Linked DNA regions of Homo sapiens: all the other regions are linked to region 3. The links come from fine-mapping of genetic effects on gene expression. A gene starts in region 3. Each other region holds a variant in brackets. All regions are shown on one strand. Distances are from middle to middle. Region 1 has its middle 22 kb from the start of TRAF6. Region 2 holds the start of LOC105376631 (a long non-coding RNA gene). Region 3 holds the start of RAG1 (recombination activating 1).

The links. PIP is the estimated chance that this variant, and not a neighbour inherited with it, causes the effect. A credible set is the group of variants that fine-mapping cannot tell apart.
Region 1: its variant is the best candidate, but not a certain one, in a credible set for the expression of RAG1 in ileum (GTEx, PIP 0.83).
Region 2: its variant is the best candidate, but not a certain one, in a credible set for the expression of RAG1 in thyroid (GTEx, PIP 0.83).

What each region holds. Positions count from the first base shown.
Region 1 is chr11:36,529,778-36,534,023 of GRCh38, reverse strand. It overlaps a transcript of RAG1 not described here. Among named protein-coding and RNA genes, the nearest start is that of TRAF6, 22 kb to the right of the region's middle. The variant G/A (reference allele first, on the strand shown) is at 2,440.
Region 2 is chr11:36,710,112-36,714,357 of GRCh38, reverse strand. It overlaps LOC107984326 (a long non-coding RNA gene), which reads right to left. Exons shown (of 4, transcript XR_001748187.1): 3 at 3,551-3,650. LOC105376631 (a long non-coding RNA gene) reads left to right here and starts at 3,368. Exons shown (of 3, transcript XR_931199.3): 1 at 3,368-3,419; 2 at 3,566-3,669. The variant C/T (reference allele first, on the strand shown) is at 1,633.
Region 3 is chr11:36,565,719-36,569,964 of GRCh38, reverse strand. It overlaps RAG1 (recombination activating 1), which reads right to left and starts at 1,958. Exons shown (of 2, transcript NM_000448.3): 1 at 1,843-1,958.

The DNA.
Region 1 (4,246 bases), 36 kb after region 3:
CTAATTATAATGCTACATTCATTTGATTTAGGTTATTTAAAGAGCTAAAAATACCTTCAGGAATCAAGTGTAAGCCTTTACCAAAACCTGAAAAAAGTAATATTACTTTAAAAAGTGGAAATTTTATCTGGATGCTTGGATGGATATTAGGACATCTGTTAGTAACTAATAAATAATTAAATATAATTAATATCATACATACGATCACCTTAATCAAAAGTGAAGGATGCTTATCTCAATATCAATAATAATGATTACTATCGCAAATCAAACATCAGCCAGAATACTACTTAACAAGGAAAGAATAGAGGCATCCCCATTTAAAAAACAGAGGGAGATAAGGGAAACAAAACACTTTCACCATTATTCAACATTGTCTAAACATTTTAGCTGAGATCATGACATGAAACAGAACTAAAAAATAATCCATGAAAAGGAAGAGACAAAATTATCATTATTCTTCTTCCATTTGGTTGCCTATTTAGACATTTTATGAATAAACTGAAAAGTCTTTGAGTTCACAAAAGTTTAGTAAAGGGCATATAAAATTAATGCCCCTGAATGTTAAGTAGGTGCACTGTGCACTGCTTACCAATATGCCTCAGTTCAATTCGACAGAACACAGGCACACACCCGTTACATGAATTGGGTTTATTACTTACAGATGGGCAACAAGGGCAATATAAGCTGAGGATTCATTGTAAGCTGATCTCGCAAGGCTCAGGAAAGTTGCCCAGGGCAAATGGAATCTTATTTACGAGTACTCAACTAGCACAGCAGCTGAGGGACCCCAGAAAGTAGCACCCCCTCCTCGGGTTTTATACCATGGGGTCACATCACATGCTGGGCCTACGTGTTGAAGGACATCCTGTTTCTATGGGGAACCAGAACAGAACCGAGGTTGTTGTGGCTAGTTCCCTCTTATCTCAGGATGTTGCATTCCTAGCACATTCTGCAGCTACTCTTGAGAACTACACGTGAAAAAAAGGGAACAATTGGGCTGGTCCAACCTCCCAGAAAACTGTTCTGCAACTATAATAGCTTCTTGCATATGCAACAGAATATATACAGCAGTTTTACCCTATACATTTATACCTATGATAAAGTTTATACATTAGGCATAGTAAGATATTAACAATAAACTAATAATAAAATAGAACTATAACAATGTACTGTAATAAAAGTTAATGTAAATGTGCTGTCTGTCTCTCTCTCTCTCTCTCAAAATATCTTATTGTACTGTACCTACTTTTCTTCTTGAGATCTTTTAAACTCATAACACAGGTGGCTGGCTAAGTGACTGAAGGGCAGGCAGCATATACAGCAGCAAATAAGCTGAGCAAAGGGACCAGGTAAGATTTCATCACACTTCTCAGAACAGTGTGCAATTTAAAATTTATAAATTGTTTATTTCTGGAATTTTCTATTTAATATTTTTGGGCCACGGTTAATCATGGATAACTGAAACCACAGAAAGCAAAACCACAGATAAGGTGGATTTCTGTACTAGAGACAAATTTCTGGAAAGCACTGTCATAGATGAAGTTATTAAAATTATGCTATTGAATGAAATAGAAAAGTGTTCATAATATATTGCTAGATGGAAAGAGTATATCATATACTAATGTGGTACCATTTTTGTAAAATATAAATATAGATATTTAAAAATGATCAACATAAAATTAACACATATAATACTTCCCACAAAACACATAAAAATATTCCAGACAGACTGGAATGACAGAGATAAAATATTAACACATAAAATATTAACACATAGTATCTCTAGTTTAGAATATTAAAAATAACTTTCAGTTTTTTCTCCATATCTTTCTTTTTTTCCAATATTTCTAGTGATTTTCTATTCAAAATAATATATTGAAAGAAAATTCAAAAGGAGATATATTTGGGGAGTATATCTCAGTAATAAATGCAATAAAAACATGAAATATCTAGAAATAATCTTAAAAAGAAATATATATAACTGCCCTAGAAATCACATTACTTTCCTGAGAGATAAATGGAGAATTAAGAAATGAAAAGGTATTTTGTGGATAAAAATATATCAGCATTCCTTAATCTAAAACGCAACATCATGCTAAATGGAAAAAAAAATTAGAAGCATTCCATTAAAGTCAGAAGGAAGAAGGAAGACTTCCATTTGCATTGCAATAAAGTATAAAATATTTTGAAAGTTTCTAGCTCACGTCATTTGATAAGAAAAAAGGTTATTGAATGGCCACAGGAAGTTCTTTAAACAGAAAGGAAATGGCAAAGTATCTTGTACCATCAGAAAAAAACACATGGTAACTAAAATATCAGTAAATACAATAGACTTCCCTTCTCCTCTTGCGTTTTCTAAATTATGTTTGATGGCGAAAGCATCACCAAAATTATGTTTGATGGTGAAATGTAAAGGAGTTACGTTTTCTACATTAC[G/A]CTCAAATTAGTAAAATGATACCAGTAGACTGTATAGACTGTTTATATAAATCATATATATACATATATATAATGTAATGCCTAGAGCAAAAACGTTAAAAATCTATACAAAAAGACATACCACTATATAAAACATCAAAATGGAATTCTAACGAATGTTTAAGCAATTCACAGAAAAAAGAAAACAGAGAAATGAAACACAGAGATAAAACAACTAATAAAATAGCAGACTTAAGCCATAACATACCAATAATTACATTAAGAAAATGGCCTTAATATACCAATTACAAGACAGAGATTGACAAAGTGGATTAAAAAACATTCAACTATATGTTGTCCATATGAAACCCATTTCAAATATAATAATAAGGACAGGTTGAAAGTAAAATAATGGGAAATTTTTCATGTAAACATTAACCAAAAGAAAGCAAGAGTAAGTAGCTATATTAATAGCAGATAAAATAGATGCAAAGTAAAGAAAATTACCAAACACAAAGAGGGAGCTTATATAATGCAAAAAAAAACCCTTAATCTATCAAGATGATGCAACAATTCTAAATGTGTATGCACCAAACAAATGTGTATGCATCAAACAATGTGTTGAAAAATAAGTGAAACAAAAACTGAAAAAACTGAAAGGAGAAATAGACAAATCCACAGTTATGGTTGAAGACTTTAACACCCTTCTCTGAGAAGTTGATGTAATACCTAGACAGAAAATTGGCAAGGATATAAGAACTCAACAACACCATCAACAAGTAAGAGCTAAACAACATTTACAGAGCACTCCATCCAACAACAGCAGAATACACATTCTTTTGAAGGCCCTAAGGAAAATATATCAAGAAAAACCATAAAGAAACTCGACAAATTTCAAAGAATCAAAGCATATCAAGTGCGTTCTCTGACTAAAATGAAGTTAAACTAGAAATCAATAATAAAAAGTTAGAAAAAAATATCCAAACACTTTGAAAGTAAACAACATACTCCTAAGTAACCAGTGGGTCAAAGAAAAAATTTCAAAGAAATTTTAAAAATACATTAGACTGAATGAAAATGAGAATACAACTTATAACTCATAGGACACAACTAAAGCAGTGATAAGAGGGAAATCTGTAGCTCTAAATGCATATATTAGAAGAGAGAAAAAGTCTCAAATAAAAAATGTAAGCTCTTACTTCAAGAACCTACAGCTAGAAGAGAAAAATAAAGTCAAAGCAAGCAGAAGGAAAGAAGTAATAAAAAGAGGAGCAGAAATCAATGAAATTGAAAAGGCATACCTATATAGAAAATCAATAAAACAAAGACTCATTATTTGAAAATGTCAATAAAATGGACACAATTTGCAAAACTTCTTGCAAGATGAACAAAGGAAAAACAGAAGTAATAAGTTACCAATGTCAGGAATGAAACAGGGATATCAGTATAGACCCTGCAGATTTAAAAAGCAAAATAAGGGAATAAAAACAAACAACTCTGCACATATAAATTTAACAATTAAGACGAAAATGGACTAATTCCTCAAAAAACATAAACAGCCACCGTTAACCCAAAATGAAATAATTTAAGTAGTTGCATAGTTATTAAGGAAACTGAATTTGTAATTTTAAAGAACTTTAAGAAAGGTAATCTCCAGAACTAATGGTTTCACTGAAGAATTCAACCAAATAGTTAATAAGGAATCGACATCAATTGTACACAATCTTTTCCGGAAAATAAGAGAAAAAAAAAACCATTCCCAATTCATTCTGTAAAGCCAATATTAACCTTATACCAAAATGAAATGAAGATATTACATAAAGAAAAT
Region 2 (4,246 bases), 140 kb before region 3:
ATCTCGTGGGGAAGGAAGGGAAGAATGAGTTTCATTTTGGACACTTAATGCTTGAATTATATGACAAAAACAGCAAGGATAGGAAATAGACAGTTGGACATGTGGATCTAGAGTTCGAAGAAGTGGCTTAATCTATACTACTAATTCCATTTTTTTATCGAAGAATAAAAATGGTAGATTGATGGGATGTGTCACTTTTGCACCCATTAAAGATGATGCCCAGAAGTAACATAAATAGAGCAAAGAGGACTTCTCCAGAATCTAGACTGTATAGGTCACAGCTTTCTCCTCACAGAACTTTGGACTGCCCATCCCCTCCAGAAAAGACTGCAGTCAGCATGTATTTTGGGAACACTACGGTCTGTGGTCTTGGTCTTGTTCACACTACTAAAAGACATCTGCTTTGGCCATACTTGCCAACCCTTTATTCTGCTTTTTAGGCCGGAATAGTCTTAAAATTTCAGCACTTCCTGACTTTTGAGGCCATCTGCTAGCCACATCCTCAATCCACAGCCACATGAACCCTGAGCCCAGAAGGTATAATTAGCCTAGGGCCTGGGATCACACAGCCCAGTGTCCACAGGGGCCATGCTTAAACTGAGCTACTACCTAGCTCCATCCTGCCATTGTCATGCAGAAATACCCAGTATTGCTGGAGTTTATAAAAGAAACTGAAAATGTGGAAGGGTAGGGGTAGGGGGCAAAAAAAAAAAAAATGAAATATCTCTACTCTTAAATGTTTAGTTCAAATCTTTTTAAAAGACCAGCTGGGCCAAACAAAACTATATATTGGGTACAATGTACACTGCTCAGGTGACAGATGCACCAAAATTTCAAATCATCACTAAATAACTGATCCATGTAACCAAAAACCGCCTGTTCCCCAAAAACTATTGAAATAATTTTTTTTTTTTTTAGACGGAGTCTCGCTGTCTCCCAGGCTGAAATGCAGTGGCATGATCTCGGCTCACTGCAAGCTCCACCTCCCAGGTTCACGCCATTCTCCTGCCTCAGCCTCCCAAGTAGCTGGGACTACAGGTGCCCGCCACCATGCCCAGCTAATTTTTTGTATTTTTAGTAGAGACAGGGTTTCACCATGTTAGTCAGGATGGTCTCAATCTCCTGACCTTGTGATCCGCCTGCCTCAGCCTCCCAAAGCACTGGGGATTACAGGCGTGAGCCACCGCGCCCGGCCAAAAATTTTTAAAAACCTCTCACAGAGCCCGCTTGGACCCAGGGCCATCAGTGATTGACTTTTGGTCCCACCAATGCACGTGCACAACATTCACATTCATATTAATTCATTAATTCTCCTTAACTGATGCTCCTTCCTCAGAATGCATCCCAACACAATTCTCCAGGGAGATAATAATCCACATATTCAGAGCTGCACATGAGTTGAAACTTATTTGCCATGTCTATTCTCCTTTGCAGGAACATGTGAACACCACATGTTCCAAATAAAATCCTCCTTTCCTCCTTTCAAAAAAACCAAAACTGCCTTGGGGCACACACACAAATGACAGAATCCTTTCGGTGGCTGCTTCTATTGGCACATATTGTGTTACCAGTCTATAAGCTATTCCTATTTCCTTTGCACCTTGTCTCTGCTCAGCGACCTCTTAAGTGCCA[C/T]CGTAGTTCAGTTAAATCAACATCTTTTTCTATTCACTCTTGACCTTCACTTCTCTCAACTTTTTTTGAAATGTCAACAGCATTTTCCTATACCTTGTCCTGATTAAAAGTGAGAGAAACCTGGATGCTTTTCTCTGCCTAATTCTCTAATGTGAGGATAACTGATGGAAGTGACTTTTTGTACACTGATCTCAGAACTCAAGGGTGGTAGGGAGGAATCTGCAAGTTCCTGTACTTCTTTCTGCAAAGTGACTCACTTTGTTTTCACCTGAGTTTAAATGAATTGAAGAAAGGGTTCCCATTCATTCCAATTAGTGAAAAAGCAATCATTTTCCCATGTAAAATTAAAGCTTTAGCAGGCACCTTTCCTTGCGAAGGCATGAAGCTGAACACTTTTAATTTAAGCCAAACAAGAGCATTAAGAAGATGTATTCCTTTAGAGCTATACTCCATCAGGGGCCTTGAATGCCAGTTATTGGCTTTTTAGCCAAAGTAAAAAATCTTTCTGCTATTGTTTTTATGGATCACTATTAAGAAAAGAATAGCAGTTAGTTGATTATCAAGTTTCCTTTGGTGCGGGCAGAGGGAGGAGGAATTATAGTCTCATGTCGTACATAGCAGTTGCATTCGTTTGCTTGGGCTGACCTAACAAAGTCCCACAGACTGGATAGCTTGAATAACAGAAGCTTATTTTCTCACAATGCTGGAGGCTAGAAGTCTGAGATTAAGGTGTGGGCTGGGTTGATTTCTTCCGAGGCCTCTGTCCTTGGCTTGTAGATGAGTATGTTCACAAGGTCTTCCTCCATGCATGCCTGTGTCCTAATCTCTTCTTATAAATTCAACAGTCATTGTAGATTAAGGCCCACCCTAATAACCTCACTTTAGTTACCCCTTTAAAGACCCTGGCCTTAGATACAGTAACATTCTGGGGCACTAGGAGTTAGGACTTCAACATATAATTATAAGAGGACACAATTCAACCCATCACAGGTGCCTTGAGCATAACTTACACTGGAGCACCATGTAAGTTTTAGTGAGAAGTGATGGAAACTAATTCATGCCAGTAAGAACGAAAAATGAGTAATAATAATAATGAATACAAGAAAGAAAGAAAATGCTCTAAGGCAGAAATGCAACCCTGCTTCAGAAAGGGACAGGAACTAAAAAAAACTCCTAAGCTACATTTCCTCTCACTGCTTCCTCTGCAAATAGGCTTATTCTCCCTCCACAGGTATGCTTTCTTTTTTTCCTCATTCCATAAGATAGAAAATGGTCCCCACTCTTTCGAGCTTGCATAGAACAGGCCCTGCCATTTATCCAGACAGACTGGAAAGACTTCAGTCCTGATTTCCAGGCAACAGAATCGGATTGCCCCAGCCTGGGTTAGGTGTTCACCCTGATCCAATCAGTTACAACTAGGTGGCACTGTGGCCACCTATTTTAAACATGGCTGCTTTGGGCTCATCTTTGTGAATTGGGATGATTCACTTGGAAAAGGAGATACAGATCTATGATCACTGGCCTGTAAGTAGGCTAGATGCTCTAAACTTGTCACTATGTGGGTAAAAATATTTTTTTTCTGCATGTCCCATTCTTTCTTGTTAGACTTCAGCACCTATTTCTTCTGCTAACTAGCTTAGCTAGATATTTCTCTTCTTGAAGCATAGACAATAGGTAACTATAGCAACTGGTTGTACAGGTAATTGCTATAAAACATTGCCCAGGGGTTAGAAAGCCATGGAGACACTGAACCCTACATTCGACTGAGGCATTAGTTCACAGCTAAGGTGAGTTTCTTGTCTCCAGAACAATCAATGTTTTACCTTTAAAAATAAAGAAAAGTGTGTGCACCACAATTCTGCCTGAAAGCTCGGGCATTGAAGTGGGCCCAGGAGGTGCAATTTCAAACAAGACTCACCTTTTCATCTTCCAGGTCCGTGACTTGGTTAGGTCTCAGTTGCCTCTAATCTTCTCCTTTGTCATCGTGGCTTCAGCTGTCCAGCATTTCCAGGGACAGGCTAATGAGGAAAGACACAGGTCAGTAACATCACCTTTAGATCTAATAAGACAGTATTCCCTCAAATGCAGTTAGCTCATCCTCAAAGGTCCAGCCAGCATCATAGGCATCCTGGAATCCTTCAGTTCCTGTTGATTTCCTCCTTGTCTATTCACTGTCACCTGGAATTCACAGACACAAGGAAAATATCCTTTCCTCTCATCCCCTATTTTAAACCAAACATAGCATTGGAGTGACTTACTTTAGAATGGCTAAGATAAAGAAACAGACATCATCCAGGGACTTATGGGCTCATGTCTTCCCTTGACAAAAGAGTTTGGGAGACAGCTCAGTGATTAAGCACATGGATCCAGGAGCGAGGCTACCTAGGCTGAAAGTCCAGCTCTGTCACTTTCTAGCTCTACCTTCAGCATGTGATTAACCTCTCTGTGCTTCTTCAGTTTTCTCAGAGTGGCTAAAATGATTAAATGAGATAATATACGTAAAATGCTTAGAACTATGTAATTTATTGTTATTTGGGTATTTTTTTAACTTCATTTTATTTTTGAGACAGAGTCTCACCCTGTTGCCCAAGCTGGAGTGCAGCAGCATGATCCC
Region 3 (4,246 bases):
TGCAATTTCTGTATGCATCAGTGACATGGAAAGATGCTCACATGAAAAAGCAGAGAATAGAATGACAATAGCAAGTATAGTAGGATTCCCTTTATGTAGATACGTTTGTATTTGTACATATATGAAATCACAGGAATTCTGAAAGGATACACACTAAAATCTTAACAGTGTTTAATTTCTGAAAAAAATAGAATTGGCATTGATAAGAGGGCCTTTTGCACTTTTTATTTTATTAATTTTTGTATCATTTGAATTATTCAAAACAAGCAAGTAACTATTTTTATTAATTTTGTGATACATTTATTTTGGATAAAACTGTTTTAAAGACTAGCTGTATATGTGCTCATAGTCACTTTTCCATATTTTCTTCTAAATTTCCCCCAGAAAAACTTAAGATCTGGCTAATTTCAAATATGACCACCACCCTTAGCTTTTCTTTCTTTTCGGATGAACATGGAGAAAGCAGGCTAAAATATGGACCTGTAGACAGCATGAAGTTAGGATTGTGAAAGAGTTATCTTGGATTCATATTTTGACACTCAGAAACCTTGCAAATGCTTGATCTCCTCTCTTCTAACAAAAGGTCTCAGCAGTAGACCAGCCTCGGGATCTCAAAGGCTGAGTGGTTGGTGCTGGCTCAGCCCTGTCCCCACCGGCCACTGCCATCTCGACATTGCCATCTGACATCAGAGCTACAGGCGTGCCTCCCTCCACACAGCACAGATTCATTTTGACAAACTAGTTTGGGGTGGCTTGGACAGTGCAGGAACAGTAGTTTCTGGTGAGTGATATCATTAGTTCAGGAGGCCAGGGTGCAGCAGCAGCAGCAGCCCCCCATTTCCATCCCAGCTGCCCACCCTATACCCACACACATACACCCCGTTACTTGGCCCACAATCTTCCCTCCTAACATCTTCAACTTAGTCTGTACACAATTTCCAAGTAATAACTGTGTGCTCAAGTGTGACCTCTCATTATCACACCTGTTCCACTTATTCATTCACTCTGCAAATACTATCGTCTGTTTTTTGCCAAACATCATGTATCAAAAATGTGACAAAATAAAAAGCCTTTTTATAAGTCTCAAGTATCCACAAAATAACACTACAATTCTTGCTCTTCCTTCAGACAACCTCTTGCATGAACCACTTCAGAAAGAGAAATATATCATCACAATCCCTGGCCAGGAATCCTGACTCAAGAACATAACCTCAAAGCAGGGTCTCTACCATGGCAATTCTCAAAATTAATACAAATCAGAATCATGAGCGAGTTTGTTTTTAAAAAGAAATGCAGATCATCAGGTCCCAAAGAGTCTGGCTGTTTGGGAAGGAATCCAGAAATTGCATTTTTAAACATTCAGTGATTCTAAAATGAGTGAATATTTTGAGAAACATTGGTCTCCTACTTAGGCCAATCTAGTTCAGGAAATGCCTGGCAATACTTGTTAATACCTGGGAAACCATACATTTCCTCCCACCCTATTATGTTCCTGATTATTTTTCTCACCTGAACTACCAGTATTCATTTCCAAGAGTCTCACACCTTACCTTCTGCTGATTTGTACACATTCATTCAAGAAGCACTCCTTAAACCTTTCCTCTGACAATAGCATTCATTTATAGTAATTCAGATATTTTGCATCTTTCTATGAACCTTCAGTGGCCCTAAACTTGGCCTCTTGTACCTTTTTTATTTTCATACATTAAAAAAAAATTGATGTAGCTTTGCTCATTCCATCCCCTCATCACCTGGAAGGAAAAAAAGCTCAAGCACTTCTAGTTAGAAACATAAAAATGTAATAAATATTTTGGCTCAAGGCATGAAAAGTATGAGTGTTACCTTGCTCAGCAGGCTGCCTGGCCAAAGTGTTGAGATGTCTGCAATTTGGTTGATATTACTCAATACCAAAGAGAAGGCAAAGTGTGTTCTCTGCTCTCTCCTTGCCCTCTTGTTTCTCAGAACATGCTGCTGAGCTGTTTATCAGCTTCCACTGTCCTTCCCAGCCTCCCCCACCATGGAGGGCTAACCACAAATGATGGCAGCCAATCATGGGCCAGGAGACCCCAGCTCCAGCTGCCACCTGGCTCTTTAGGAAGCTTAGCTCAGGGGGGCCTGAGTGTAGAACCATGTGCGAGAGTTTGCTGGGGCACTGGCTGCCAGTTCCCTCCCTGAGAATGTTTGGGTTGGAAATGGTCTTGTCAGTCAGTATAAGCCCCAGCTTTTGCCAGGGTTCTATATCTCTGTGCCTCAGTTCCACATCTGTAAAAAGGAAAGGCTAGTAGTATATACCTCAAAGAGTCAATAATGTTATACAATGACAGTTATTATAGGAAAATACTTGAAACGATGTCTGCCTCTTTGTAGATGTTCATCAGATATTAACAACACTATGGAATTTTTTTATTATTATCTTGAAATGTTATCCAAACAATCTCAGAACCTTTCAACCTGGTCAAATCTTGCTGAGGAAGGTTGATGCTCCTTGTAACTACTGTAAGTTTAAACATTACTCGAGTATGGACATCAACAGACCTGGATTTAAATCTTGACTCAGGCCTTTGATTCATTACTTAAACTTTAGGAACTTCAATCTCATCACCTGCAACCTAAGATTAATAATATTAGTCCCCATTATTGAGAGCAATGGGCTAGGCTTGTAAGTGTTTTATGTGTCATTTAATTTTCACAACAGTCATACGCATTTGATAATATTATGTCTAAAAAGAAGCAACAGAAGTTCAGAGCAATGGAGTGACTTGCCCATGGTCACACAGCCACTACTTAGTGAAGGTGGGGTGGAATTCCAAAGCTCATGTTCCTAATCACTCCATTATACCATGAAAGGAGAATAATGAAAGCCACTTTGTAGTAATAGTCTAAGGATAATTCAAGAATGAATAGGTGTATACACACCTCTGTCTCTGTTTCAAAACCCCTTTATAATTCTCAGACCAGCTTTATCCCCAAAGTCTTTCTGTGTTCAGCTAATAAGTGAGAGATTCCTTGCTTGTCTGATTCTCAGCAAAAACTGTCAAGGAGGCAGGTGCAAGGATTTCACTGTTCTGTGCTGCCCTCATTCGACGCTCCTCTTACATCTCCCACTCTTTCGCATTTGGACCTACTTAACCACACAACAGCCCTGGGGCCACAGCTGCTCACTAAAGACAAGGCAGAAGCCACTGCAGTAACACTGGGAGAGAGGAGAAACTGGTCTGTGGCTTCTAGGAGCTTCAGTGTGTTTTTCCCCAAGGAGATGCAGCCTTTACCTGAGGGTCATATTTGAGGCAACATGGCGAGAAAGGCAGGTGAGAGCTAAGAATTTCCTGAAGACAGTGTTCATGTTCAACAGGTGGCCCTGAGCCCTCCTTACACAATGAGGTCAAGTAGAGAGGAGTCATAACATGACTTACATGCAAGAGGGTGTCCTTCCCCCCCCATCCTCCTGCTCCTTAAAATCTTGCATCTCCAATGGACTTACAGGAAGAAAAAGAAAAGGCCAGATGTTCATGCTTCCCCTTGAAGGAAAGAGCAAAATAATAATATCCCACAGTATTAGAACAAAGCAGCAAGTTCAAGGATCAGGCTTCAGTTCTGTAGGTTCACTTGGAAGTTATGTAAAACTAAAGTGACAAAATGCACTGGTTTGTTTTGGACTTTCCTTGGTTTAGCACCGAGAGTCTACGGTGAACAGAGTTGGTTGGTTGCCCATAACCTCCAAAGCAGAGTTAGAAAATTTCTCTGAGGTCAATAATTTATAAATGGAATCCTTTTCAATTTTTCTTGGAAAAGTAAGCTGGTCAAATGGACTCATCAAAGAATGGTGAAGGTGTGAGGTTCAGACCAGATAAGGGAGGAGCTTTCTCTCTCTCTCTCTCTCTCTTCAAATCATATTTAACATAGATTTCTGTATTGCTCAATTTTTCATCAGTCATGTATACTTTTATAATTAGGAAAAATCACAATATTTACAAATAAAGTACTTAATGAATTTTAAATGAGACATAACAAAATATTGGGTGCCTATGAAGATACAGTTTTCTAATTGCTCTGTTTGATAAAAGTCTGGATTTGTATACATCACCAGTATTTCCATGTTTCTCCCAATTTCACCTCCCAATTTCTCCCATCCGTGTTGAAATCAAGTCACTTGTCTCCTATTGAGAAGTAAGACCTCCCTTGGATCACCTGGAAAAAACAAGTTAAATAATGGCCCATTGTCCCTCTGGACACTAACATTTTATCC